7 linked regions of the Homo sapiens genome follow. The protein of the gene in region 1 interacts with the protein of each later gene in a biochemical or structural test. Each region holds a gene or a part of one and is shown in the gene's direction. Other genes may lie near its edges.

What was found.
Region 2: the proteins of RAMP3 (region 1) and PDLIM1 interact in a test that uses a peptide from one of them, tested with the Homo sapiens proteins (one large-scale study listed by IntAct).
Region 3: the proteins of RAMP3 (region 1) and RAPGEF6 interact in a test that uses a peptide from one of them, tested with the Homo sapiens proteins (one large-scale study listed by IntAct).
Region 4: the proteins of RAMP3 (region 1) and LIMK2 interact in a test that uses a peptide from one of them, tested with the Homo sapiens proteins (one large-scale study listed by IntAct).
Region 5: the proteins of RAMP3 (region 1) and TJP3 interact in a test that uses a peptide from one of them, tested with the Homo sapiens proteins (one large-scale study listed by IntAct).
Region 6: the proteins of RAMP3 (region 1) and SIPA1L2 interact in a test that uses a peptide from one of them, tested with the Homo sapiens proteins (one large-scale study listed by IntAct).
Region 7: the proteins of RAMP3 (region 1) and FRMPD3 interact in a test that uses a peptide from one of them, tested with the Homo sapiens proteins (one large-scale study listed by IntAct).

What each region holds. Positions count from the first base shown.
Region 1 is NC_000007.14:45,164,291-45,167,790, forward strand, and holds part of RAMP3 (receptor activity-modifying protein 3 precursor), read left to right. Parts: intron 1-3,500. UniProt on the Homo sapiens protein: Accessory protein that interacts with and modulates the function of G-protein coupled receptors including calcitonin gene-related peptide type 1 receptor (CALCRL), calcitonin receptor (CALCR) and G-protein coupled estrogen receptor 1 (GPER1).
Region 2 is NC_000010.11:95,242,504-95,246,003, reverse strand, and holds part of PDLIM1 (PDZ and LIM domain protein 1), read left to right. Parts: intron 1-3,500. UniProt on the Homo sapiens protein: Cytoskeletal protein that may act as an adapter that brings other proteins (like kinases) to the cytoskeleton. Involved in assembly, disassembly and directioning of stress fibers in fibroblasts.
Region 3 is NC_000005.10:131,460,730-131,464,229, reverse strand, and holds part of RAPGEF6 (rap guanine nucleotide exchange factor 6), read left to right. Parts: coding exon 1-189; coding exon of another isoform or gene 190-193; exon of another isoform or gene 194-617; intron 618-2,141; coding exon 2,142-2,525; intron 2,526-3,500. UniProt on the Homo sapiens protein: Guanine nucleotide exchange factor (GEF) for Rap1A, Rap2A and M-Ras GTPases. Does not interact with cAMP.
Region 4 is NC_000022.11:31,260,798-31,264,297, forward strand, and holds part of LIMK2 (LIM domain kinase 2), read left to right. Parts: intron 1-1,336; coding exon 1,337-1,442; intron 1,443-1,797; coding exon 1,798-1,994; intron 1,995-3,500. UniProt on the Homo sapiens protein: Serine/threonine-protein kinase that plays an essential role in the regulation of actin filament dynamics. Acts downstream of several Rho family GTPase signal transduction pathways.
Region 5 is NC_000019.10:3,748,849-3,751,313, forward strand, and holds the end of TJP3 (tight junction protein ZO-3), read left to right. Parts: intron 1-1,289; coding exon 1,290-1,336; intron 1,337-1,733; coding exon 1,734-1,836; 3' UTR 1,837-1,965; downstream 1,966-2,465. Other genes in the region: APBA3 (amyloid-beta A4 precursor protein-binding family A member 3), read right to left, coding at 2,057-2,249, 2,341-2,465. UniProt on the Homo sapiens protein: TJP1, TJP2, and TJP3 are closely related scaffolding proteins that link tight junction (TJ) transmembrane proteins such as claudins, junctional adhesion molecules, and occludin to the actin cytoskeleton.
Region 6 is NC_000001.11:232,623,634-232,627,133, reverse strand, and holds part of SIPA1L2 (signal-induced proliferation-associated 1-like protein 2), read left to right. Parts: intron 1-3,500.
Region 7 is NC_000023.11:107,599,652-107,602,701, forward strand, and holds part of FRMPD3 (FERM and PDZ domain-containing protein 3), read left to right. Parts: intron 1-651; coding exon 652-3,050.

The sequences.
Region 1 (3,500 bases):
GTAATTCCAGCACTTTGGGAGGCCAAGGCGAGAGGATCACTGGAGCCTAGCCTGGGTAATATGAGATCTTGTCTCTACAAATAACAAAAAAAAAATTAGCTGAGTGTGGTGGCACATGCCTGTGGTCCCAGCTACTCAGGAGGCTGGGGTGGGAGGATTGCTCAAGCCCAGGCAGTGAAGGCTGCAGTGAGTCATGATCACACCACTGTACTCCAGCCTCGGTGACAGAGTGAGACTTTGTCTCAAAAGAAAAAAAAAAGAATTCTCCAATTATAATTGTGAAATTGTGGATTTGTCATTTTCTTTTTGTAGTTCTGTTTTTGCCTTGTGTGTTTTGATGCTGTTATTAGGTGCATACATATTTAGGATTGCTACATCATCTTGATGAATTGAGCCCTTTATTGTATTGAAAAGACCCTCTTTATCTCTAGTAATATTTTTTGCTCCAAAACATACTTTGTCTGATATTAATATAGCCACTCCATCTTTCTTTTGATTAGTGGTAGCAAGATGTGTCTTTTCCCACTCTTTTATTTTGAACCTATTTGAGTCTTTTCATTTAAAGTTGGATTCTTGTTGGCAGCCTACTGTTGGACCTTACTTTTTGTTCTTATTTGACAATCTTTGCTTCTTAGTTGAAGTGCTTAGACCATTTACTTTCAATCTGATTATTGATATGGTTAGATTTAAATCTACCATTGTACCATCAATTCTTTTCCTCTCTTTTCTCCTTTTCTGCCTTCTTTTGGACTTAGTATTTATTATTATTACTCCATTTCTTTTTCCTCTTGCCCTTCTCCTCCTCCTCCATCCTTGCTAATTGGGTGTAATTCTTTTTTTTGTTTTGTTACTCCAGTGGTTGGTTCAGGGTTTATGGTATACATCTTTAATTCATCAATCTGTCTTCAGGTGACATTACACTGATTCATGGATAGCCTAAGAACCTTCCATTTCTCTCCTCCTGAACTTTATGCCATTGCTGTCATATATTTTATTTAAATCAAAGTTATAAATCTCACAATACATGATTATTATTTTTTACAGAATTTAGACATTGAGAAAAATTCTATATATTTACTTGCATAGTTAAAATTTCTGATCTCCTCCATTCCTTTGCATAGGTCCATATTGGCTTCTGATAGGCTTTCCTAAACATTACTTATAGTTTGGGTGTGTGGGTGATATTTCCTTTCACCTTTTGTATGTTTGAAAAAGTTTTTATTATGCCTTAAAAAGCCAGCATTATTGAGATATAATTCACATGCCACACAATTCACCCATTTAAAGTATACATCAATATTTTTTAGTACATTCCTAGAATTTTGCAACCATCACTATACTCAATTATGGAACGTTGTTGTCACCACAAAAATAAACCCCCTACCCATTAGCAGTCACTCCCTATTTCCTCCAACCCCCTTAGCCTTAAGGAATCACTAATATGTTTTCTGTCTCTAGATTTGCTTGTTCTGCACATTTAGTGTAAATGGCATCATATAATATGTGAGATTTTGTGACTGGCTTCTCTCACAGCAGAATGTTTTTAAGGTTCATTCATATAGTGGTATGTTTTAGCACTTCACTCTTTTATGTACAAATAATATTCTATCACATGGGTATACCACATTCTAGCCATTCATCAGCTGATGGACATTATTTCATCTTTTGGCTATTATGAATAATGCTGTTATGAATCTTCATGTAAAAATCTGTGTGTGAACATGTGCGGTATAAATTTAGGAGTGGAACTGTGTAGTCATATGGTAACTCTACGTTTAACATTTTGAGAAACTGCTAGACTAGTTTCCAACGTGGCTGCTTCATTTTACATTCCAATCAGCAGTAGTATATAAAGGTTCCAATTTCTGCATGTCCTCACTGACACTTTTTTTTTTTTTTTCTGAGAGAGGGTCTCATTCTGTTGCCCAGTCTGGAGTGCAGTGGTGCAGTCATAGCTCACTGCAACCCCGGACTCCTCAAGCCATCCTCCCACTTCAACCTCCCAAATGTCTGGGGTTACAAGTGTGTGCTATCACGTCTGACTGCCTTTTTGATGATAGCCATTCTGGTGGGTGTGAGTGGTATGTGATTGTGGTTTGATTTGCATTTCCCTGATGGTTAATGATGTTGATTGTCTTTCATGTGCTTATTGATCATTTATATATATTTTTGTAGAAATGACTATTCATATCCTTTGCCCATTTTTAATTGCTTTATTTTTCCCTTTATTATGGAGTTGTAAGAATTCTTTATGTAACCTGGGTACAAGTCTTTTATCAGATATACAACTTGCATATATTTTCTTTCATTCAGTGGGTTGTCTTTTCACTCTCTTGATGCTATCCTTTGAAGTACAGAAGTTTTAAAATTTGACGTGTCTAATTTATCTATTTTTCTTTTGTTTCTTGGGTTTTTGGTGTCATGTATAAGAAGGCTTTTTCTCACACAAGGGCACAAAGATTTTCTCCTGTATTTTTCTAAAAGTTTTATTTATTTATTTTTTGAGACAGAGGCTTGCTTTGTTGCCCAGACTGGAGTGCAGTGGCGCAATCTCAGCTCACTGCAACCTCGGCCTCCCAGGTTCAAGCTATTCTTGTGCCTCAGCCTCCCGAATAGCTGGGTAATCTAAGAGTTTTATAATTTAGCTCTACATGTAGGTCTTTGATGCTTTTTTTTTTTTTTTTTGAGACAGAGTCTTGCCTTGTTGCCCAGGCTGGAGTGCAGTGGTATGATCTCCGCTCACTGCAAGCTCCGCCTCCTGGGTTCACGCCATTCTCCTGCCTCAGCCTCCCCAGTGGCTGGGACTACAGGTGCCCGCTACCTCGCCCGGCTAATTTTTTGTACTTTTAGTAGAGACGCGGTTTCAGTGTGTTAGCTAGGATGGTCTCGATCTCCTGACCTCGTGATCTGCCTGCCACGGCCTCCCAAAGTGCTGGGATTACAGGCGTGAGCCACGGCGCCCGGCCTGTGATCCATTTTGAGTTAATTTTCGTGTATGAGGTGAGAAGGGTCCGACTTTATTCTTTGGCAAGTGTATATCCAGTTGTCGCAGTACCATTTGTTGAAAAGAGTATTCTTTCTCTGGTGAATTGTCTTGGTACCTTTGTAGAAAATCAATTTATCATAAGTGTGAGGGTGTATTCCTGGACTCTGAATTCTATTCCACTGGTCTATTTATCTAACCTTATGCCAGTACCATGCTATCTTGATTACTGTTGCCATGTTGTAAGTTGTAAGATTGGGATGTGTGAGTCCTACAACTTTGTTCTTTTTTTTTTTTTTTTATTTTTGAGACGGAGTTTCATTCTTGTTGCCCAGGCTGGAGTGCAATGGCGCGATCTCGGCTCACCGCAACCTCCGCCTCCCGGGTTCAAGCGATTCTCCTGCCTCCTGCCTTGGGAAGCCTCTCCTGAGGCTTCCCAAGTAGCTGGGATTACAGGCATGCGCCACCACGCCCGGGTAATTTTGTATTTTTAGTAGAGACGGGGTTTCTCCATGTT
Region 2 (3,500 bases), on another chromosome or scaffold:
GTGAGACCTGCCTCAGCCAGGCTGCAAAGGGATTGGCATGTTGGCTGAGAGGCTTGTGCCCTCTGGAAGATGAACCTCCCTCCTCAAAGTCCGCAGCCGAAGATTCAGCTTCCTGGGGAGCCCTTTCTGATAAGAAAGTTCTCTTCTGAACACACCCGACACCTGGGCTTCCTCCCCATTTGTGTGATTTCTTTAGAGAGAGTGGCAGTTTACAACCATAGGAAATTAGGAAACCATGGGCCATGTGTTTGCATGTGCTTCTTTTATGCTAAAATGATACTGTTCTACCACTGCTTTCCTCTTTTGCTTGGAGTAGCTGAGCAGCTGGGAAGTAATGAGCCATACTTCGTATCAAGTTCCAGTATTAGCTTTGCCTGACAAACAACTTGGGGGCCAACCCTTGAGGATGATAGCTTTGTAAAAACATGTGAGAAACCACAACTTATTTCACTCTTACGTGGATGTGAAACCCTTCAATGAGAGGCAAGGTCAAGTTCATCCGTGCCCAACTAGACATGCTGCAGAGCTCATCTCAGCTCACAGAGAAGGACCTGAGCATGGATTTGGAAGCTCCATGCTCTTCAAGATCTGGACTCCTATCCGGCACTCCAGCACCCAAATTTGTGGCTTCTATTCCCAAGGTTACTTCGTGGTCCTGGTTAGCAGCTGGTGTTCCAACCATCATGCTTACCCCCAGGTGACAGGGAGGAAGAAGGGAGATAATGCTAACCGGGGAGTTCCAATTTCAGATGAGCCAGCTTTCTCCTTCCCAGAAGTCCCACACTACTCTTCCATTTTATTGACCATGATTTAGTCACCTGGCTACACCTAGTTAAACGAGAGTCTGGGAATTAGGATTCTTTTTAAAAAAAATTTTAGCCCTTAGTCTGGATGGTTCTTGCCCCAAAGAGAATCAAGATTCTGCTGGAAGGGAAGAGGGAGATAGCAAATCTTGTAGTTTCTCCTGTATCTCTTACTGTGTACCCGCATTAAATCTTTACTGACAGTAACAGGATAAATTCCATTCTAAACATTCTTTACATGCAGAAGGCTCTTCGGGGAAGGAACCCAAATGCCTGTTTGTTTTTGTTTTTGTTTTTGTTTGAGACAGGGTCTTGCTCTGTTGCCCAGGCTGGAGTGCAGTGGCATGATCTCGGCTCACTGCTACCTCCGCTTCTCAGGTTGCAGCGATTCTCCTGCCTCAGCCTCCCAAGTATCTGAGATTACAGATGTGTACCACCATGCCCAGATAATTTTTGTATTTTTAATAGAGATGGGGTTTCTCCATGTTGGCCAGGGTGGTCTTGAACTTGTGACCTCAGGTGATCTGCCCACCTGGACCTCCCAAAGCGCTGGGATTACAGATGTGAGCCACTGCACCCGGCCCCAAATGCCTGTTTTTATTTGAGATAAAATGGTGAAAGGTTAAGGTAGTAAAAGCAGTTGATGAGAGGTCCTGTCATTCAGAAACGCCTCTGGTTCAGAAAGCAGTGCTGCAGGGCAGAAAGAGCACTGGCATCCAGGATCTGCCTCTGACCTGCTGTGACACCTCCAGCAAGTTGCTTGCCTTTCTAAGCTCTAGTTTCTGCACAGATCCATTGAAGCTAATAGCCAGGACCTCATGGGATTGTTTACAGGGTTAAGTAAAGCCACGTCTGTAAACTGCCAGGTGCACAGTGAGTAAGGCCCCTCCCTGAAGGAAGCTTGGCTACAGCAGTATTTGGTCATAAACCTTGAAGACCCAACACAAGCTGTCTCATTTTGGGTAAAATTCAGCTTCTAGACTAGGAGAAAGGGGCCCTTGGTTCCTCACCTTCATCTTGTTCTGGATCAAATTCCAAAACTTGCAGGCAGAAGAAGCCGTTATATTAAGAAAAATGGTGAAATATACTTAATATAAAATTTACCATCTTAACAAATTTTAAGTGTACAATTTAGTGGTATTAAGTACATTTATGTGATTGTGCTACTATCACCACCATCCATCCATAGAACTCTTTTATTTTGCAAAACTGAAACTATTCCCATTAAAGAGTATTTCACCATTCCTCTCTCCTTCCAGCTCCTGGTAACCACCCTCCTGCTTGTCTCTATGAATTTGACTACTCTAAATACCTTGTATAAGTGGTGTCATGCAGTAGTTGTCCTTTTGGTCCTGGCTTAGTTCACTTAGCTTAATATCCTCGGGGTTCATCCATGTAGCATGTGTCAGAAATTCTTTCCATTTTAAGGCAGAGTATTATTCCGTTGTTTGTGTATATTACATTTTATTTATCCATTCATCTGTCCATTGAAGGAGACTTTCAATGATTGGAGGTTTGGAAGGAGCAGTCATGGGCTGAGAAAACACAGTGGTGGCCAGAGGCTCTGAGATGAGAAAACTGGAGACTAGTTCAGCAAGTACCGAGGCTCGTTTTGGCTGGTTACCCAGGGTTCCAGGTGAATCCTTGGGTGATCTCGAGTTAGATATGGGGGACCACCAGGTGCAAGGTTAAGAATCATGAGCTTGATTCTAAAGGTAGTGTGAAGTCATGCAAGGTTGTTGAGCAGTGAAGTGGACAGAAAAACAGCTGTGGTTTATTTAGCTAATTTTCACTTTTTTTCCAGAAATATTTGGGATACAGGGTTCACTGTAAGAAGAGAAATTTGGAAATTTTTGTAGTTGCCTGGAGTTCAAAGGAAGCTAGTATTTTCACTATAAGCTAGTTGAGAAGAAAGGAAGAGAGATTTCTCTGGATTCGCAGTGTTGGCTGGATATGTGAGAGAAAAAACCTTGAAGCCAACAGGTGGCACTGTAGGGCTGAACAGGCCACAGTGAGTCTTCTGTTGGGCAGGCAGCCTTCTCCCCCAAGCTGTGCCCAGTTTTATCCAGGTCAGGTCTCTTCATTCTAGAAAAAGATGTGGATTCTCCTACCTAATGGAGATTTCATGTCCCTCCTGGCTTTTTCTCATTCTACCCTTTTGCAGCCTCTCTTCTTTCCTGGTGATTTTTCTATGGATTGAGTGGATTCCAGGTCTTTAAGTGTGAAATGTGAAAAGCCCATTGCATAAGAGAGCCCGACCTCATTGAGCTGGTTCTCAGCCCAATCAGTGCCTTTGCAAACTGCCCAGGTATGTAGAGATGCTGCCATTTCCTTCTTGTCATGGGCAGGCAGCCAGATGGCTTCATCAGCCAGAAAATGAGGGAATCCGTTTGGGATGCTTGAGGCATGATGCTTAGAGAAGATGCCCACCCAGGCCCTTCTGAGATCCCTCTAGGAAGGGCCAGGATCAGGGTGAGGTGAGGGAGGCACTGCTTTGAGGGCAGAATTTTTTTTTTTTTTTTGAGACCTCTGTCGCCTAGGTTTGGAGTGCAGTGGCGTGATCTCGTCTCACTGCAACCTCCGCCTCCCGGGTTCAAGCCATTCTCCTGCCTCAGCCTCCCAAGTAGCTGGGACTACAGGCACGTCCCACAATGCCCGGCTAGTTTCTGTATTGTTAGTAGAGATGGGGTTTCACCA
Region 3 (3,500 bases), on another chromosome or scaffold:
CATTATCATCAGTAAAGACACCACAGCTAAAGAAGTAGTTTTTCATGCTGTTCATGAATTTGGTTTGACCGGTGCATCCGACACATATTCTCTCTGTGAAGTTTCTGTTACTCCTGAGGGTGTCATAAAACAGAGAAGACTTCCAGATCAGTTCTCCAAATTAGCTGATAGAATTCAACTCAATGGAAGGTGAATAAGCTTATTAGTGGATGTGCTTATTTGTAGATGTGCTTTTGAAGATTTCCTGTTAAAACAGCTATTGTAAGTAGAAACATTATCATGTTTTAGTGCTCCTAAATTCACTCCAGAAGACGCTTGATAAAATATCTTGTCACTCCTGCTAAAATAAACTCTTAGAACCACTGATATAATCTAGTTCCTGTTTTTTTATAGAGGAAGCTGAATGATACAAATCTTCATATATATCTGAATGACTGTATCTACTAATTTATAAATTTGTTTTTAATATGGCCAGTATGTACTTTGGCAAAAGAAGCCATGGTTTTCACAGTTCTTTTTCTAAGTAGTTTTCCTTTAATGAATATGCAGGAAAATTTTAAAAATTTTAAAATGTGTTCTGAAAATTATTTAATAAACTAGATTATTTCTGTAGTACATTTGTTCCTTACTCTGGTTTTTTTTTTTTTTTTTGAGATGGAGTCTCCCTCTGTCGCCCAGGCTGGAGTGCAGTGGCGCGATCTCAGCTCACTGCAACCTCCACCTCCCAGGTTCAAGCGGTTCTCCTGCCTCAGCCTTCTGAGTAGCTGGGACTACAGGCACATGCCACCATGCCTGGCGAATTTTTGTATTTTTAGTAGAGACGAGGTTTCACCGTGTTGGCCAGGCTGGTCTCAAACTCCTTACCTCAAGTGATCTGCCTGCCTCAGCCTCCCAAAGTGCTGGCATTACGAGTGTGAGCTACCACACTCAACCACTCTGAGAATAATCTTTTTGGTAACCCAGTTTCATATGTAGAACAAGATCCCTAGAAAGCTTACAGTGACTGCATGCCATGGTTGCTGTGAAATGAGAATGAGTTAACTCTGTTTTGCTGGCTGTACATAGTGGTTAAGAGCATAGACCCTGGATTCAGATTGCCCACATTCAAATCCCAGCTCTGGCTATGTGACCTTGAGCAAGTCATATGTAGCTTCTCTACCTGAATTTCCTCACCCATAAAATGAGGATAGTAATAGTAGAATATACCTCATGGGAATGTTGTAAGGATTAAATGAGTTACTAAGTATACCATACCTTATAATGTTAAACATTATTATATATAGCATAATGAGTTTCAGCACTATTATTTATGGCATTGTCTTAGGCATATGAACAGTCTAAAAGCAGAAAAAAGAGTTTCTTGACAGTAAAAAATAGATGGATAGATGGATACAAACTTAGGCTTAAATCAAGTTGGATTATTAGAAAAGAACGAAGTAAAAGCAGGTGATACATTACCTCGTTTCCTTAGTAACATCCCTGCACAAGATGTTTCCTGTCTCTTACTTTTAAGTGCTGTAGAATTGTTGATTTAAGAGAAGAAAGCAAAATATAGGTCTTAATGTGTGGTAACTGATAAGTGCCACTTGCTGGAATGAGGTTTTGTATTTAACAAGGGAGAAACCATTAGTGGAAGTGTTTCCCCTCCTCTGTAGATTTCATTCCTCTTGCTTCACTTGGAAATTTATTTAAAAAGGAAGTGAGTGGAGTAACTTCTGAATAGAGATTTTTAACCGTCTTGATTCAGGAATTTATTTTGCCTTAATTAGAATTCATGCTATTCATAAACAAATATTTACATAGTACCAATCCTCTGTCAGATAAAACAGTAAGATAAAAGCTTTACGAGGGCAAGGCCAGTACCTAAAATAGTATCTGACAGATAGTTTCATAAAATAATTAAGTTCATGACATAACAACATTATTTTTACTCTTTAATAGATGCCAGTTGGTAGAATAAGAGACAGACTTCTCAAAAATCTTTTCATTTAAAATGTTAACTTTTCATTTTATCTGTAAATTAATATTTTTGGCTAAAAGTTATTAACAGTAAAATGATATTTTACAACGACAAAAAGGAAAAGTGCTCTTATTTAATCATATTTATGAATACATTTATTTAAAAAAATTTTTCCATTTAGGTATTACTTAAAAAATAACATGGAAACAGAAACCTTATGTTCAGATGAAGATGCTCAAGAACTAGTTAAGGAAAGCCAGCTATCCATGCTGCAGCTCAGTACCATTGAGGTGGCCACCCAGCTGTCAATGAGGGACTTTGATTTGTTTCGTAATATTGAACCGACTGAGTACATCGATGACCTTTTTAAGTTAAATTCCAAAACAGGAAATACTCATTTGAAGAGGTTTGAGGACATTGTAAACCAAGAGACATTCTGGGTTGCCTCAGAAATTTTAACTGAAGCAAATCAGCTCAAACGAATGAAGATTATTAAGCATTTTATTAAAATTGCACTTCATTGTCGAGAATGTAAGAACTTCAATTCCATGTTTGCAATAATAAGGTAAGTTGGTACAAATAGGTACAAATGTCTGTATGGTTTTGTCATTACATGCAGCTGATTTTCTACTTAGGTATTCAATGCCTATGAAAAGAAATGTTCAATTAATATGCCTTTATTGAAGTGTTGTTAGATTTAATGTATTTTCCATTTTGGTGGTATTGGCTTTTTCTATTTTTGTTTCTTCCATCTTTCTTTTACTTCTTTTTTGTAAATGAAAGTGGGTGATTGCCTTCTAATTTTTCTTTCTCTCCCTTCATCTCCAACCCCCCGCCTTGAGTGATTATATCATCTTTGGATATGTGCCCAGTGGCTGGTCTTTATCATTAGACTTCTGTACTGTGCTTTTTTAAGTACCTGCCTCACTATGATTTGACTCTGAAAAATCACAGTATGGTATCAGTACTTTGACCTAAAGTTGCTATTTTGAAACAACAACATTGATAATAATGGCAACCATTTGGTAAGCTCTTCCTGTTTGCCAGGCACTACATGAGGTTCACTGGATGTGGTGTTCCTCAAGCAAGTTAGGCTGTTAGAATAATAAAAATGTTTTGACATTCATAAGCCCAGGAAGTGTAGATAATTACGTGAGCTCTCCCACTCCCTTCTTCCCACTTATTATGAAAAGTTAATTGTAGGTAATTTATTTTCTGATCTTTATTTAGCACACTGTAGATCAACAAAGGGATTCTTCTTAAAACAAGTTTAATTTTAAAAGGGAGAGGAGTTGTAGTTAGCTCCATTTTTAAGGCCATGATGTGCTTATAAATCGCAGCATAATTCCACTTGAACTAATCCTACCTATACACATCCCCCACAGAATTCATAATGATTTGTTTCTACTCCTCATGTAGATTAAGATTAAAAAGTAGAATCTTTATAGGGACTCTTTATTCATGACCCTGTCATGGTAATAGGATGTGCCTTTATTAAATTAACCAGTGTCTACAACTGAACTGAACACTCTAGGAGTAT
Region 4 (3,500 bases), on another chromosome or scaffold:
AGAAGCATTTCTCCAAAAGTAGGAGTCTTAATCATGTCTGATGTAGGTTGAGTGTGGCCAGAAAAGGGGCTGTTAAGTATAGAGGGCCTGGATTATGAAAATCCAGCAGATCCATTGAGAGTTTAAGCAGCAAGGTGTTGTGACCAAGTTAACATTTTAGAAGGATCACTGGTATGGAGGTTGGATTGGAGAGGGGAAAGCCTAAAGGTATAGAGACTAGTTAGGAAGCTATTGTAGGCTGGGCATGGTGGTTCATGCCTGTAATCTCAGCACTTTGGGAGGCTGAGGTGGGAGGATTGCTTGAGGCCAGGAGTTGAAGACCAACCTGGCCAACATAGCAAGACCCCGTCTCTGTTTTTCTTAATTAAAAGAAAAGTCCAGACGTAGACATAGTGGCTCACGCCTGTAATGCCAGCACTTTGGGAGGCCAAGGTGGGCAGATTGCTTGAGGTCAAGAGTTTGGGATTAGGCCAGGCGCAGTGGCTCACGCCTGTAATCCCAGCACTTTGGGAGGCCGAGGTGGGCGGATCACAAGGTCAGGAGATCAAGACCATCCTGGCTAACACAATGAAACCCCGTCTCTACTAAAAGTACAAAAATTAGCCGGGCATGGTGGCGGACGCCTGTAGTCCCAGCTACTCGGGAGGCTGAGGCAGGAGAATGGCATGAACCTAGGAGGCGGAGCTTGCTGTGAGCAGAGATCACGCCACTGCACTCCAGCCTGAGCGACAGAGCGAGACTCCATCTCAAAAAAAAAAAAGAGTTTGGGATTAGCCTGGCCAACATGGCAAAACCCCATCTCTACAAAAAGTACAAAAAAATTAGCTGGGTATGGTGGTGCGCGCCTGTAATCCCAGTTACTCAGGAGGCTGAGGCATGAGAATTGCTTGAGCCTGGGAGGTGGAGGTTGCAGTGAGCCCAGATCATGCCACTGCACTCCAGCCTGGATGACAGAGTAAGATGCCATCTCAAATAAAAATTAAAAACAAAGTTTAAAAAAAAAATAGAAGCTATTACCGTGATCCAGGTAAGAGATGTGAATAACTACAATGATGGAAAGAAGGCAGAGTTCTTAGAGATGGGAGTAGGAGAGATGAGGGAACTCCAGATTGGGAAGATGATGTTCAAGTTTCTGGCTTAGGCCACAGGGTGAGTGGCAATTCCCTTCACTGAGATGGGGCATCCTGGAAAAGGTGTTGCCTTTCTGTGTGGGTATCCTGGGCCCCTTAGGGGCCACTGGTGGCCTGGGACCTGGTAAACCTTCCCTGCACAAGCAGAATTGGTCAAGCAGGTTTTTAGGACATCTTTACCCTGCCTCAACTCTTGTCTGGCCCAGGGTCAACCGGATGCACATCAGTCCCAACAATCGAAACGCCATCCACCCTGGGGACCGCATCCTGGAGATCAATGGGACCCCCGTCCGCACACTTCGAGTGGAGGAGGTAGAGTGTGTGTCTAATCTGTCTTGTGAGGGTGGGACATGGAACAGATCCTCTGAGAAATCAGGCTGTAGCCTTTACCTTTTCCTACCCCCAGCCCATCTCTTTGTCTTAGCATTGAGCCTGTGACCACTGGTGACCTATTTCAGCGTAACAGGTTCCCAGGGTAGCAGGGATGGTTGATGGACGGGAGAGCTGACAGGATGCCAGGCAGAGGGCACTGTGAGGCCACTGGCAGCTAAAGGCCACCATTAGACAAGTTGAGCACTGGCCACACTGTGCCTGAGTCATCTGGGTTGGCCATGGGTGGCCTGGGATGGGGCAGCCTGTGGGAGCTTTATACTGCTCTTGGCCACAGGTGGAGGATGCAATTAGCCAGACGAGCCAGACACTTCAGCTGTTGATTGAACATGACCCCGTCTCCCAACGCCTGGACCAGCTGCGGCTGGAGGCCCGGCTCGCTCCTCACATGCAGAATGCCGGACACCCCCACGCCCTCAGCACCCTGGACACCAAGGAGAATCTGGAGGGGACACTGAGGAGACGTTCCCTAAGGTGCCACCTCCCACCCTGGCTCTGTTCTGTCCTATGTCTGTCTCTCGGATGAAGCTGAGCTGGCTTTCAGAAGCCTGCAGAGTTAGGAAAGGAACCAGCTGGCCAGGGACAGACTATGAGGATTGTGCTGACCCAGCTGCCCCTGTGGGGATCACAGTTTACAGCCAGAGCCTGTGCGGACCCAGCTGTCTGCCAGGTTTCCTTAGAAACCTGAGAGTCAGTCTCTGTCCACTGAACTCCTAAGCTGGACAGGAGGCAGTGATGCTAAACCCTGAAGGGCAACATGGCCTATGGAGAAAGCATGGAGCTCAGAGCCTGGAGTAGGGGCACAGATAGGATTGAATAAATTGTGTAGAAAGACTTTGAAAACAATAAAGCAAAAGATGAATGAACGTTTTTTTTAGACTTGAGGGACCAACAACCCCCAAACCCCAGATTCTGCCAGGTCCATGGGGAAGGAGAAGTTGCCTTGAGTGGAAGCCCCAAGTAGGGAGACTTACAGAAAAGAAGTCAAGAGCACTGGCTCCCAGGCAGAAATACTGATACCCTACTGGGGCTTCAGGCTGAGCTCCTCCCTTCACAAATCACTTCATCTCTCTGAGCCTGTTTCTGCATCTGTGACATAAGATGGTAAGATAAAGGTGGCTGTCTCACCAATTATGTAAGGATTAAATGTGGAAAAGGACATAAAGTTGTATAGTGCTGCCATAGGGACAGTGTTCAGTAAACGTGACACATTCTTAGTATCACTAAGAATCAGGTTCTTGGCCAGGCACCGTGGCTCATGCCTGTAATCCCAACACTCTGGGAGGCCTAGGTCGGAGGATGGCTTGAACACAGGAGTTTGAGACCAGCCTGAGCAACATAGTGAGACACTGTCTCTACAAAAAAAAAATAATAATAATAATTGTTTTTAATTAGATGGGCAGGGCACTGTGGCTCACACCTGTAATCCCAGCACTTTGGGAGGCCAAGGCCGGAGGATTGCTTGAGGCCAGGAGTTCAGGAGCAGCCTGGGCCACATTCCTGTCTCTACAAAGAATAAAAAACTTAACTGGGCATGGTGGCACATGCCTGTAATCCCAGCTACTCAAGAGGCTGAGGAGGAGGATTGCCTGAGCCCAGGAGTTCAAGACTGCAGTGAGCCTTGATCACACCACTGTACTACAGCTTGGGCAACAGAGTGAGACCTTGTCTCCAAAAAAAAAAGTTTGTTTTTTTTTATCCACTCTCCTCACCAAACAAACTGAGTAAGTTAGAGCCCTCTCAGCTGGCATGTGTTGGAAACAGTGCCCTCTCATTAAAGTGCTGCCCTCACTCCCATTGCCTCTTGGCCTTGGTCAGTATGATGAAATTAGTGGGAGGCAGGGCAACAGAGGGCAGGGAAGAGCTAGAAATCCATGGCCTGGAAAAGGGAAGATTTGGGAGTGGCCAGGTATCTGTAGAGCCACCATGCAGAGGAGGGGGGCAGCTAGCCTTGTGTGCTCTGGTGGGCATGGTCAGCAG
Region 5 (2,465 bases), on another chromosome or scaffold:
TTTTTTTTTTTTTTTTTTTTTTTTTTTTGAGTTAGAGTCTCGCTCTGTCACCCAGGCTGGAGTGCAGTGGCACGATCTGGGCTCACTGCAACCTCGGCCTCCTGTGTTCAAGCGTTTCTCCTCCCTCAGACTCCCAGGTAGCTGGGATTACAGGTGAGCACCACCATGCCCAGCTAATTTTTTTTTTTTTTTAAGGTATTCTTAGTAGAGACAGGGTTTCACCACGCTGGCCAGGCTGGTCTCCGATTCCTGACCTCAGGTGATCCACGTCGGCCTCTCAGAGTGTTGGGATTAGAGGCGTGAGCCACCGCACCTGGCCTCCAGCCAACATTTTAACCTCTCTGTGCACCTGTTTCCTCATCTAGGACACAGGGTGGATGGTATCAGACTTGGTGGCACAGGGCGGTGGTGAGCACTCAATGTGCTCAGCCCAAGTTTTGGCACATAGTAGTTGCGTGTCTTTTTGAACTTGACCTATCTAATTTATATATTTTATTTTTTAAATTTTAGAGATAGGGTCTTGCCCTGCTGCCCAGGCTGGAGTGCAGTAGTACAATCATAGTTCGTTGCGGCCTCCAACTCCTGAGCTAAAGGGAGCCTCTCATCTCAGCCTCCGGAGTAGCTGGGACCACAGGCGCGCACCACCACCCACACCCAGCTAATTTTTTTTCATTTTTTGCAGAGATGTGGTCTTGCTATGTTGCCCAGGCTGGTCTCTAACTCCTGGGCTCAAGTGATCCTCCTGCCTTGGCATCTCAAAGTGCTGGGAGTACAGGCGTGAACCACAGCGCCCAGCTGTAGTTGGGTGTTTAACAGTAACAAATGTGTATGTAGCTCTTAGTGTATATGCCTCAGCATCTTCTTCCACACCCTCTCTAGGTCAATGTAAAAATCTATGAATCAATGACATCTCTGATTAGAGTGATTTTCCTGGGGTTGTGCAGTACCCAACCTGCTCAACTGTCCATGGCAGGCTGCATACGGAGCAGCCACTGTACTAAGTCCTTTACGTACATGAACTCATGGCTGTGGCCCTGTGAGGACTTGCACAGATGAGAAACCCAATTCCCCTTTTGCTGACAGGCTAGGAGGTCTCAGCTAAGGCCTTCCCCTATCCCAGCCTCAGTTTTCTCATTTAGATTTGGGGATGACCTGCAGACTTGTCACGGGGTTAGCAAGTGGGCAGCATGGCCCGGGCCAAGGTGGGGGATGGGATGGAGGTGGTTATTGATCTCGACTCACCATGCTCTGGGGGGAGTTTTGAAGCTCCTCTCTCCCTCTCCTCCAAGGTGGACAGCCGCCACCCCCAGGGACAGTGGCGACAGGACAGCATGCGGTAAGAACCCCATATTCCAGATTGGGGCCCTCAACCCTTCCCTTGGGACTCAGACTCTGCGGACTCAGATCTAGATCCAAGCTATGCCTTCATGGTGCCCCTAGCCTAGTGGGGAAGACAGAGCCTGCCAGAGCCTCTCTAAGCCCCATATAATCAGGGCCAAGGGAGTAGGAATCCACTTCCTGGGAGGCCTAGGAAGGCTTCTTGAAGGGCAGGATATTGCAGCTGGGGCTTTGAGGGATGCATAGGAGTTTGTTAACAAGGCCCTACCCATGAATGCCCAGATGTGCTTATCTCTGCCCACACCCACTGTGCCTAGCACAGCCAGCCTCAGTTTATGGTGAGAAAGCTCACACCCTTCCCACCCACAGCATCTATTCTATTTCCTGATCCCCAGAACCTATGAACGGGAAGCCCTGAAGAAAAAGTTTATGCGAGTACATGATGCGGAGTCCTCCGATGAAGACGGCTATGACTGGGGTCCGGCCACTGACCTGTGACCTCTCGAAGGCTGCCAGCTGGTCCGTCCTCCTTCTCCCTCCCTGGGGCTGGGACTCAGTTTCCCATACAGAACCCACAACCTTACCTCCCTCCGCCTGGTCTTTAATAAACAGAGTATTTTCACAGCACCGGCTTCTAGTGGCTTCCAGGAAGGACAAGGTCCTCGGTCCCGTAGACCCTGATCCGAGACTTTGCCAAATGCATAAGCTTTTACTGTTTTTATATTAGGAAATCATACAGGACCAAGAACCGCTGGGGTCCTGGCCAGCCAGGGCAGGCCCAGGATGGGGCTCCGGGGCCATGGAGGCGAAGGCACAGTGGCAGGCAAGGGATGAGGTGGTCACAGGTACACGGGCTGCTCCTGGCCTGTAAGGAGGCGATATGTGGCAGCTGGCATCGTCTTGATATGCACCTGGGGAGTGGAGGCGGAACGGGGCTCAGGGCAGGCCTGGGCTCGTGGGGGACGTGGGGGCGCCCCTGGCCACCACCCACCACCCGCACACCTCGCCATAGGCCTCGGTGAGCAGCTCGATGATGCGGGCGTGTGGCGTGGCCACCACACTCTGCCCATTGATCTCAATGATGCGGTGGCCGACGCGGATGCCCCCACGCTCGGCGATGCCACCAC
Region 6 (3,500 bases), on another chromosome or scaffold:
TTACAAATCCTTTTAAAGACACACTGAATTTGAAGAAAATTTAGACTAGGGTATTGTTAATTGAAAAGCTGCTTTTTTTTTTCTTTCTGTTTTGAACTTCAATGAAATACAAAGTACAGTCCTAGAGAATAGTGAACCATGTTCTAGGTTTTCTACTTCTGTTAATGTGCCTAATTCATTTGCAGAGTGAGAGTAGAAAAAGCTTTAGGCACAGACAGGAACCTTGAGCTTCCTGCCTCTACCACCTGTCACAAATGAATTTGGATGAAACTATTTTCATGATCCCTTTCAGCACCAAAATTTGGGGTTTCTTTAAGGTTTAAGACGAACGCATTAGAGTAATGAAAATGCCTGTCTGACTGGGATGTTTATATTTTTCATGATTATGTCATTTCTTTGCCTTGGCCTATAGTAAGTTTGTATGTGAATGCTTTGCATGAGGGTCATAGCTACTTGGTTTACCTTGAAATCAATGATTCAGAAATTGCTTTTTGTGTTCCAGTTGCATGTAGCTGTGACTCCTTTTAAAAGTGTGGTAACAATGTGGTAGGAATTTAAAAGCTTCCCAACTTTAGACATAGATTATTTTGATCCTTTCTGAACTGGATTCATAAACTTTGGTTCCAAAGAACAGCAGCTGTAGAAGGGAGCCAGATCTTGACTCACTGTTGAGGTTCTGCTTCTTGAGAGATTTCATATTTAGTGCAACCCAATTCCTTGGTTCGTTCTTCTCCCCCAGTACTAGATAGCCAAGTTGGGTGGTAGGAAGGAAGAAAATATGCAGCAAGTCGAGTCTAGTTGTCATGCTCCTTTGGGCCAGAAAGGACCTTAAAGATTGTCTCGTCATGTTGTTCCTATACCTTTTGTTTTCGTCTACCTGTAAAATGAAAAAAAAAAAAAAAAGCAAATATTAGGGATTGTCAGATATGTCAGCATTTAATGTTGCTACATAAGTGTGTTTAAAATTGACAACAGCAGTTACTACCTATTGTCAATGCATTTCGTCAAAATCCTTTTGATGTACCAAAAAAGAGAAAAGGTGGGGAAAGGGGGAAGAATATGTATGCTGTCAGACTTAAAGGAGAGTTCTTCCTATCCAGAGAGGAGCTGTGTTAAAATTACCCCACTCGTGGATTTATATCTATCCCCACACAGACACTTTTTTCTTTTGCATGGGTCAATGAAAAATTCACTAAGGACCGGGGTTTAGAAATCACTGAGTAGCTCAACTAACCCTTCTTTGATATTTGGATCCTTTTATATAATCTCTGTAAGTGGTCTTCCGGTAATACCTGAACATTGCAAGTAACGGGTGGTGATTTCCACCTTTTAATGGTTTTGAGTACTAGAAAGTTTTTTGGCCTATAGAATTGAAATCTGATTCTGCTTGTTTATTCAAATTCTACTGCCTTGGTGGCCTACAGAACAAATCCTTCAGTCTCTGTCAGAGTTGGGCTCTTGGTGTAACGTGACCCGTGAACATGACCTGTGTAGAGTACAGCAGGAGTGTCTTGTCATAGGTTGCATGTTGCTTGCACTGATGTAGTCCAAGTTTGCATTTACTTTTCTGGTGGCCAGACTCAACGAGTTTCCTTTTCGCTAAAACCTGCCGAGCCGTTAATCACATGCTGCCATTGAACCTCGTCTTTCCATCTTGCGCTGATGTCATTGCAAAACCTAACATTTATTGCGCTGTGGTTTTGCTTTATTTTAGCTGATTCTTTCCATCATGCTTTTTAGAATTTGATTATATTATTTGGCACCTTTACCTGTCCTCCCAAAGAAATGCTGTCTGTACATTATTAGATCAGACTCTTTTATATCTTTACTTAAGCCGGTGATGAAATTGTTAAACTGGCTGAACAACACGAAGTGTGTCTCTGGAAGCTTCCCTCGAGGCTTACAAGGAGTCACACTCTCGGTTATAGTTAACTACTAATGCTCTTCATATCTTATAACTAGCCCATATAGCTCCACCTTTCCACATGGATATCCTGAAAGAGTGTGTCAAACCTCCTTTGCTGGTTCTACTGACCAAGTTATGCTGAGTAATAATGAGTTCATTTTCAGTGTGTCCCTAGTAACGAGCACTCTCTTCTGCATATGATTAAGAAAATGTGTTAAATGACTGACTGGATTGAGACACTAGGGTCACACTGTGATCTGTGACCTCCGGAGGCCTTAGGAACTGCAGTGCTTCTAGGAAAAATCAGAATATTGTTGGACTTTCTTCAGCTTATTTTTTGGTTTGGTATTCTCTTGTGTTGAATTGCTTTCAGATAGTGGGGAAGAACACCACAGTCTCTTCCGGTTTTGTTTTAATTGGTTGATATACTTCTCTTCCTATTTTACTAATAAACATTTAGCCAAAAGGGGTGTCTTGAACTCTGCCCATTAGATTACTCCATATTTTTCACTTCTACATATTTGCTTAATCTTCTGAGAAATATCCCCATTTAGTTGAGTTCCTCAAGAAATCAGAACAGTCCGAAGTAAGCTATCTGGTAGTTTATTCAAACTCTTAAGTAAAAATATCTAGGTAAAGAGCCAGTGTTAAAAATTGTTATTGTGGAAAGTAAGAACTCCTGGGTGAATAAAAGATTATGTCTGCTGAGATGAACTATTGTGTGGAGTTTTAAAAGAAAGTTCTGGTTAATGCTTAAGACATAGTGTCCTGTGAAGTCAGCATAACTACTTTCACTGTCTTCTGGAGGTGGTTTTGATAACACATTTGGTTCCTTGTTGAACAGTGGGTATTCACATTGTTCAGGAATAGCTTTGGGATACTGTCCTCTCCGTATTGAAGTTTCTAATAAGTAATTTTAGGAATTATAGTTTTGATTCTTTGTACAGGGCAAATGCTACCTGTTTCAGGTGTTTAAATGGCCTAATGCAAGAAACAGTGGTTTCTTTTTAGCAGGTTCTCAAGGTTCTCAAACTTTTTTCAACGTGCATCCCATCTATACACAATTGTCTAAGTGTTCATGTATGTATGCGTATACATGTATACATATCTGCATGCACGTTTGTGTGTGTGTATATGTATAATATATCTGTATGTATAAACATATACTTTACTGTGCTAAGATATTATGGACATAAAACAAATGTACATTTTAAGAAGATTAATATTAAAAATAAATAGATGTAGAAGTATTTTCTCTGCATCTCAAGGGCATTTGTATCTTTGAAATGTGTGGCCCCTGTGTAGAGACCACTGTTGTACTATCACTGGTTAGAGTTTATAGCAGTTGAGAAATGGAATTTCTAGGGAGCCTGTAGGGTCTTGTGAGGCAAGCGGAAGACAAACTCCACTCTTGATGGGCCTTATATTTACTGTGTATTTATTCTTTTTCCCGAAGACATTTCTGACTTTGGCCTGTTTTCTTCCAGAATTGCTTGTGGGTCTTGGTTTGGGGTTTCATTTATTGAGGGGTAGGAGGTTAATGTAATGGCGATGCTATTCTCCTTAGAAAGTTTCTAATTGAACTCAGCTGTTT
Region 7 (3,050 bases), on another chromosome or scaffold:
AAAATAGTTGTGATTAGCATGCTGTTTTGCATGTGATTCACATGGTAATTTGCCATAAAACTGCCCAGATCCTCTCGCCACCTCTTTTGTTTCTGTTTTGGATTCCGGCCTTTCATCCCCTTCTTATAGCTTGCCCCTCTTTGTCCCCTCCCCTCCACTCTTCCCACCCTCAGCCCTGCATTCTCGCCAGGCCTGTCTGTTTTTCTCCAGCTGGAAATACTGCTGGCTAACCTTGGCTTCTATGCACTTCCTATATAGTCAGCCCTCTGTATCTGAGGGTTCTGCATCCACTGATTCAACCAACCGCAGATCAAAAATATTTGAAAAAAAGAAATATGTCTATACTGAACATGTACAGATTTTTCTTGTCATTATTCCCTAAACAACACAGTATAACAACTATTTACATAGCATTTACATTGTGTGAGGTATTATAAGTAATCTAGAGAGGCTTTAAAGTACATGGAAAGATGTACATAGGTTACATGCAAATACTATGCCATTTCGTATCAGGGACTTGAGCATCTGCAAGTTTTGGAATCTTCAGGAGTCCTAGAGCCAATCGCCCATGAATACCGAGGGACAACCGTGTAGAGCTGGAAAAGAACTTGATTTCAGTAAGCATAACAAGCCCTATCCCTGTTCCTCCAGGTCTGATTGTGCTGGCCACAATCACTCCTGAATCATCGCTGGACTCAGGTCATGAAACCAACTCTTCAGAGCTCACAGACATGTCAGAGATGATGTCGGCCATGAAGCAGCACCAGAACACCACCTACTTCCTGGCCCAGCACCTCAACAAGGACAGCCTCCTTGCCCGCAAGGACCTGCCCTTCCGGATCCAGAGCTGTGCAGCCCAGGCCGTTCTTACGGCCCCTTACTCTCTTGGGCGCCCGGATCCCAACCCATCTCTCCAACCCATTGCCACAGGCCAGAGTCCTGGCCCCCCTGGCGCTCGGAGGAAGCTGCCCCAGTCAGAGGGCCAGGTACAGGGAGAACGAACATACTCCTTGGCAGTGCACCCAGCACTGTCCCCACAGCTTAGTGAACAGAAGAATCTGAGTCTGCTGTCCCCAGTTCCTGAGGACAAAGGGCCTGGCCACACTAGGGCAGGCCTAGAAATGTCACTGAGGGCAGCCACATCATCCCTCAGTGAAGAGCAGGTCTCTGAGCTGAGGGACAACCTGCCCAAGGAGGTCAGGTTGAGCCCCAAGCTTATCCTCGACCCAAAGAGCAGTGTGACCCCTGCCATCATCTCGGCCGCCCTACAGCAAGTGGTTCACAATAAGAGTCTAGTCACTGCTGGTGGGGCTTTGGGGAACCCCCCCAGCAGGGGTGAGAGAAGGCTGGAGGCCAGCATGGGGAGGCCAGAGGTTAGCATGATGAGCAGCAGTGCCAGTAAGAATCTGAAGTTCAAAATTAGCCCCAGTGCTCCAGAGACCTCATGGAATTCTCAACATCAGCTGGGTGCAGAGGTCTCTTCCAGCCCCAGAGCACCCACAGGCAGCCGGGCTGACAGCCTGCACCTCTCCCAACAAGAGGACAGTCTGCCTGTTCAAAATTTCCCTCCCAAAAGCTATCTTTTGCGAACAAGCCGAGAGTCAGTGGGCAAGCAAGCTACAGGGGAGGTGGCAGGCAAAGGCGGGCCAGTGGGTGGTAAGCCCACCCTGCAGAAGCAGGGCACCATCTCCAGCCAAGGGGAGAAGGCGCAGCTGGAGAGCACACCCAAAAGAAGCAAGCTCGAAGAGACCAGCCTGGTTCCCCGAGCTACCTACCCCATGGCTCTGCAGAGCCCCAGCTGCCAGTCAAGAAGCCACAGCCCCAGCTGCCAGCCTCATGGCCACAGCCCCAGCAGCCAGTCTCGAGGTCAGAGCCCCAGCTGCCAACCTCGAGGCCAGAGCCCACTGAGGTCTCAGGCTGCCAGCCGGCAGGTGAGCACCATGCCCTCTAGGAAGCTTGAAACAACTCTCAATGGAGCCCACTCGACCTCTGAAGGCCCTGCCAAACCCAAGTCATCCCGAGGTCCTTTCCGGCTACGCAATTTATTCTCTGCCACCTTCCCAACCCGCCAGAAGAAGGAGACAGATGAGCGGCAGGCCCAACTGCAGAAGGTAAAGCAGTATGAACTGGAGTTCCTTGAGGAACTTCTAAAGCCACCAAGCCAGGGGGAGCTGCCAGGCACCGAGTACCTGCAACCTCCAGCACCTGGCCGCTGCAGCTGCCAGCTCCGCAGCAGCCCTGTGCAGCAGGGGCCTGGCATGTCCCGTGAGCAGAGGCGCAGCTGTGACTGCAAGCGCATCTGCCGGGGGGGCCGGCCACAAGCCACCCAGACACCAGTGCCCAGCCTCCGGGGGAGGGAAAGGGACAGAGTCCTCCCTAGCCAGAGGCAGCCAGAGGCTGGCCCAGGCGTGAGCCTCAGCAGCCCCATCAATGTCCAGCGCATTCGTTCTACCAGCCTGGAGTCCCGAGAGTGCCGATCGGACCCTGAGAGTGGTGTTTCGTGCCTGACCACGTGTGCCTCGGGGGGCGAGTGTCTGGGAGCTCCCAATTACAGGAAACTGATGCGCCGCTACAGTATCAGTGAGCTGGACCAGGGTGACAGGGCCTCGCTGACCTCGGATGTCTACCCACATCCTCCCCTGGGCATGCTGCCCAGGGAGGCCAAGGAGGTAGAGGCAAGCCTCCCCATAGCCTTGGGTCCCAAAAGCAGGTCTCTGGAGTCACCGACGCTGGGAGACCCCTCCTACGTCCAGGTTGCCCCAGAGACCAAAGGCCCCAGACAGATGGCCGTGTTCTCACTGCCCGAGGAGGTGTACCGGAAGCCTGCCGAGCTAGACGAGGACAGTGAGAGCAGCAAGTGCTGCTCCATCCGCTACTGCTTCTACTACCGCAAGTGTGACATGGCAGATGATGCCAGTGATGGCAAGGATGAGCTCTCCTACTCTATCCCCATGAAGATCCTGCCTGGCATGAAGCTGGACGAGCAGGTGGTGCCTGTGGTGAGCAGGACCCTGCAGGTGCTGGATGCTGCTACCTGCAGCAGCAGCAGC